Linked DNA regions of Homo sapiens: region 1 is linked to region 2. The links come from fine-mapping of genetic effects on gene expression. A gene starts in region 2. The other region holds a variant in brackets. All regions are shown on one strand. Distances are from middle to middle.

Region 1 (2,792 bases), 62 kb before region 2:
TCTGCGCTCCCACGCTCCTGCCATCCCCTGGGAAGCTCGCTGACACTTCCAGGTTCCTGCCACCTCCCCTCCCCGCCCCTTCCCGGCCGCTTTGATCCCGCACGCGTCGGCCCGAGGGCGGGCGGGTGGGCGCACAGCCACCTGCGGCGACCACTTGTGAGCGGGGCGGGGCGGGCCGGCTGGGCGGGGCGGCGGGGCTCCCCGCGGTCCGCTCCCTTCCGGCGCGCTCCGCCTCCCACCGCTCGCCTCCTCCTGGCTCTGTCCGCGGTCGCTGCCGGGGCCTGTGGGCTCGGGGCTCAGGTTCGCTGAGTGAATCTGGGTCTCGGCCTTAGTCTATCTGGGTCTCTGTCTCTGGAATTCACCCTGGAGCTGTCCCTCCCGTTTCTTTCAACCTGTTTTATTTGCGCCAGGGTCTGGGTCTCTGTCTCGTCCTCGGATTGTATCTGTGACTGCCAATGCTCTGTTCTTAGCGCTAAGTAGTAACCGTGGCCTCCAGAAGGAAACTGTTAAAAAAAAAAAGTGCATCTATCTATATGCCTGTGTGCGCAGCTGCTGGATTTATTCGGTCAGCCCATATTTATGGGGTGCCTCCTGTGTGCCGAGTACTGTAAGGAGTACATTGGGTCTGGGCTTTCCTGAAGCTTATATTACAGAGGGAAAGACAGACAATAACTACGAAAGCAAAAAATAACATAAGATAGCTTCAGATGGTTATAAGGCTGTGGGAAGAAAACAACAACAACAACAACAAAAAGGTCATGGCGATGACTTGAAAGTGAAGGGCTACTTTACTCTGGGTGGTAAGAGACAGCCTCTATGAAGAAGTGATATTTGATGCCAGCGTAGTCAGCAGCCTTGAGTCCAGGCAAAAGGATCTGCAAGTACAGGCTCTGAGGCAGGAGAGCTATTTGCTGGTGGGAGCTGGAGAAAGAGGTCCGGCGAACTCGGGATGGAGGATTTGCAGAGTGGCAGAGATCAGATTAGAGAGTCAGGCGTAGCCCATCCCACAGGATCTTGGAGAGTATTGAAGGAATTTGGATTATAACGGCAATTGGAAGCCAGTGGGGGATTTTCATCAGCAAAGTTATATTCTCTGACTGATGTTTTAAAAGATCACTTTGGGGCCAGGCGCGGTGGCTCACGCCTGTAATCCCCGCACTTTGGGAGGCCGAGGCAGGTGGATCACCTGAGGTCAGGAGTTCGAGACCAGCCTGCCAACATGGGAAACCCCGTCTGTACTAAAAATACAAAAATTAGCCGGGCGTGGTGGCACACGCCTGTAATCCCAGCTACTCTAGAGGCTGAGGCAGGAGAATCGCTTGAACCCGGGAGGCGGAGTTTGCAGTGAGCCGAGATCGCGCCACTGCACTCCAGCCTGGGTAACAGAGCGAGACTCCGTCTCAAAATAATAATAATAATTAATAAGATCACTTTGGACCGGACGCTGTGGCTCACGCCTGTAATCCCAGCACTTTGGGTGGCTGAGTCAGGCGGATCGCTTGAGCCCAGGAGTTCGAGACCAGCCTGGCCA[AC/A]ATGGCGAAACCCTGTCTCTATTAAAAATACAAAAATTAGCCGGGAGTGATGGCGTGGGCCTGTAATCCCAGCTACTTGGGAGGCTGAGGCAGGAGAATCGCTTGAACCCGGGAGGCGAGGTTGCAGTAAGCCGTAATCGCACCACTGCACTCTCGCCTGGCCAACAGACCCAGACTCTGTCTCAATGAAATAAAAAAGAAAAAAGAAAAAAAAATTAGCCAGGGGTGATGGTCCGCGCCTGAGAGGGGAGGCTGCAGTGAGCCAAGATCGCGCCACTGCTCTACAGCCTGGGCGACAGAGCGAGACTCTAGATAGATAGATAGATAGATAGATAGATAGATAGATAGATAGATAGATAGATAAAATTAAAAGATCGCTTTTGTTGCTATTTGGAGAATGAAGGCAGAGGGCTCATTCAGGGGGCTGAAGCAGTCTTTTAGGCAATGCCTTGAGGTGGTGGTGGGGAGAGAAAACATGAAGGGGTTACTCCTAGGTCTTTGTCTTAGGTAAGATCATGTATTTGCTTAACGTGCGGATATATTCAAAGAAATGCGTTGCTAGGCAATTTCATTATTCAGACATCACAGAGTGTAGTGATGTAAACCTAGATGGTAGAGCCTTCTACACACCTAGGCTACACTATACAGCCTATTGTGCTCCTAGGCTGCAAACCTGTACAGCTACAGCATGGTACTGTACTGAATGCTGGAGGCAATTGTACACAATTGTAAGCATTTGTGTACCTAAAAGGTAACGCATGGCACTACAATGTTATGATAGCTATGCCATCTTTGGGTGATAGGAATTTTTCGGGTTTTTTTTTCCTTTTTGTTTTGAGGCAGAGTCTCACTCAGTTGCCCAGGCTGGAGTGCAGTGGGGCGATCCCGGCTCACTGCAACCTCCGCCTGCCGGGTTCAAGCGATTCTCCTGCCTCAGGCTCCCGAGTAGCTGGGATTACAGGCCTGTGCCACCACACCCCACTAACTTTTGTATTTTTAGTAGAGACGGGGTTTCACCATGTTGCTCAGGCTGGTCTCGATCTCCTGACCTCGTTATCTGCCAGCCTCGGCCTCCCGAAGTGCTTATCACCGAGCCTGGCGATAAGGATTTTTTTTTAGCCCCATTATAATCTTGCTCTTGTTGCCCAGGACGGAGTGCAATGGTGGGATCTCGGCTCACTGCAACCTCTGCCTCCCGGGTTCAAGCGATTCTCCTGCCTCAGCCTCTCGAATAGCTGCTCGAATATCTGGGATTACAGG
Region 2 (2,792 bases):
GACGGCACAAGCTCCCACAGCCCCTGGCACCTGAGATGTGGCCACTGGAGTCAGGATAGCCACAGTGGGGGCTGGGGCTTCCTCTGTCCCTTTCTCCTGATTACATGTGGGAGTCACGTCCTCACCTTCAAGCAGACCTAAAGCCCCGTGTTCCCAGGGCTGGTGCTCTAGCTAGGGAGGAGAGTTGGGAAGAACAGGGTAGCTACAGATGGCCAACTGAATACAAGCAGAGCAACATCCCTTCCCACCAGGAGAGCCGTTAGAACTTCCCCACATACACCAGCCTAAGGCCCAGCGAGTGGGCACGGGCCAGCTGAACGCATCTGGAAGAGCCTCCAACACACAGGCCTCCCCTCAGTGGGCACTTCCCACCAGGACTCCCTGAAGAGTCCTTAGGGTCCTGCTGGGCCCTGCCCTGGCCAGGACCGGCCTCTCCTGTCCTCCTGGTCACTTGCACAGGGCCTCCAACACCTCCAGAGTACGTCGGATATCCCGGACTTGGCGCGCCAGCCCCTGAACCGGCTGCAGAGCCCGCTCCAGCTCCTCGCAGCGCGCCAGCAGGGTGTACATGCCCTTGATGCTCATGTCCACGGCTTCACCTAAGGAGTCCACAGCATCGCGGTAGGTCTGGATGCAACCCACGCTCAGCGCCGTCAGCTCCTGCACCGCGCCACCCAGACCGCGAAGCAGACGGTCCACCCGGCCTCCCAGCTCCCGACTCAACCGCTCCAGATCCCGCAGCACCTCGGGGTCGATTGGGGGAATGGCCGGTGTGGGTGTGGGTGCAGGCGCTGGGCAGGGCCGCGCAGGGGCAGAAGGCGGGGGTGGAGGCGCGCCGCTCAGACGGATCTTGAGTTGCAGGTTGTTGGCGACAAAGTGGGTAAGGTCGCCGTGGCGGCTCACTGTGCCTTCGAGCTCCAGGGGACTGGAGATGGTGGCGCGGCGTCCGCCGCCCGCGCCGGACTCGGCACTCCCTGAGGACCCGGCGCCACCGCACGCCTCGCTCAGCCCGTCCAGGCTGCGGCTGTCCTGAAGACGGCTGGAGAACGAGCGGCCGGCTCTGCTGCCCGCGGCCGCCTCCTCGTCGTTGTCTTCCTCCTCCTGCTGCTCAACATCCATCCCGCCGCCTGGTCCCCCTCGACGGCAGTCCCTCCCGGAGGAGGGCTTGCCCTCGGGCGGCGCCGGGTTCTTGTGCCGGGAGGACAGGGAAGGTTCGTGCTCTGCACCCGGCGCCCCCCTGCGGCTCCCGGCCCCAGACAGCGTCCCTTGAGGGCCGGGCTCGTTCTCCAGAGCCTCCCGTTCCGGCCGGTGGACGACGCCGCAGCTTGACGTCTTCGGGGACGTCCTGGGGTGGCGGTTCGCGCCCCCAACGTTCTCGGTCTCTTCCTCCCCGGACACCCGGAGGCCTGCGGGCGGCTCAGAGGACGTTCGGCCCGGCCCGCCGCCAAAGACTAGGGCCTGATGTTCCGCTACAGCCAGAAGGTCCGTCTCGGGCCCGGGCCGCCCCCGAGACGACTCCATACTGCAGGTGGGGGCCGCAACGGAGGAATTGGTTCGCCCCGGCTCCGGAGGCAGTGGCTGCGCCTTTAAGGGGCGTTGGTAGAGGCGAGCCGATTGGCAGCGGCTGACAATGGTAAGGACAGGAAAAGCATTTTGATTGGTCGCGGCGACCAGGAAGTCCCGGAAGAAGAGCTGTTACTGCACAGCGGAACACACGTGAACGCCGGCAGGGTGGAGAGAAGGAGGTGACAGCTGCTCCCGTCGCCCCGCCCTTTCTGAAAGCTGATGGGGCAGATCTTAAAGACCAAGGTCCTCAAATTCCTGAGTCCCGAGGGGTGGGGCTCAGATCCTTTCTGCCTGTAATTGTACCCCCCCCAACAGTGATTGCTTAGCAAAAATACCAAGTGGGGAGCCCACTTGGGGTTCCTAGAGAGGTTCTTAGGATGAAAATGGCATATCCTTCTTGGACCATCAGGGTTGAACCTAGTTGACTAAAAAGAAGGAAACCAGAAGTCCAGCATGAGCATGAATGGTTTGCTCTATCTTTCTTGGTTAAGAGACCTAACCACTGAACTGCTCAGAGCGACCCACTGTGGTCAAGGCAGCGGCCTCTGGGCTTTCCTATGCGTTTGTCACTCTTGTTCTGTGTCTCTTGCCCCTTTCACACTGAGGGGTCTCGCCCCTTGGAGGATGGCGTGTGATTTTGCCACGAGGTAAAATATTCAACAAATGAAATGATCACAAATTTTGATATGTGCTATACAGGAAATAAAGTGTTATGATTGAGAATATAACTGAGCAGGCACTAGTTTAGGTAAGGGGTCAGGAAAATACCTCTTTGGTGAGACTTTTAACTAAAAAGAACCAAAAAGACGCAGCCACCCCCCAGGCAGAGAGAAGAAAACTTGAGCTACCTCTCAGAGACAAAGAAGTCTTGACGTATTCAAGAAACTGAGGTGAGGGGGCAGGAGACATTGGGACTAAAACAAAATCAGCAAGATAAGGGGAAGGATTTCGAGCCAAGGAGCTGAACAGGCAGCAGGGGCCACGTCATGCAGGGGGCCTTGTAGTTCCTGTTAGGGAATGGAGATTTCCTCTAAATGCAATGGTGCAGCGACATTGGAAAGGTTGTACATTGCAACACATAGCCAAAGCTTGGAGACATCAGTATTTTTATTTATTTATTTATTTATTTATTTATTTATTTATTTATGTATTTAGAGACAGAGTCCCACTCCGTCACCCAGGCTGGAGTGCAGTGGCGCGATCTCGGCTCACTGCAACCTCCGCCT

Evidence for each region. PIP is the estimated chance that this variant, and not a neighbour inherited with it, causes the effect.
Region 1: its variant is fine-mapped to the expression of BORCS6 in whole blood (TOPMed, PIP 0.98).

What each region holds. Positions count from the first base shown.
Region 1 is chr17:8,126,468-8,129,259 of GRCh38, forward strand. It overlaps a transcript of HES7 not described here. Among named protein-coding and RNA genes, the nearest start is that of TRG-GCC2-6, 2.1 kb to the left of the region's middle. RefSeq lists enhancers at 1-95, 488-567 and a silencer at 48-237. The variant AC/A (reference allele first, on the strand shown) is at 1,532.
Region 2 is chr17:8,188,620-8,191,411 of GRCh38, forward strand. BORCS6 (BLOC-1 related complex subunit 6) reads right to left here and starts at 1,561. Exons shown (of 1, transcript NM_017622.3): 1 at 1-1,561. The coding sequence starts at 1,521. The coding sequence ends at 448. LOC124903913 (a long non-coding RNA gene) reads right to left here. Exons shown (of 2, transcript XR_007065604.1): 2 at 2,656-2,792. RefSeq lists enhancers at 728-1,374, 1,353-1,632, 1,375-2,020 and silencers at 813-862, 933-992, 1,193-1,242.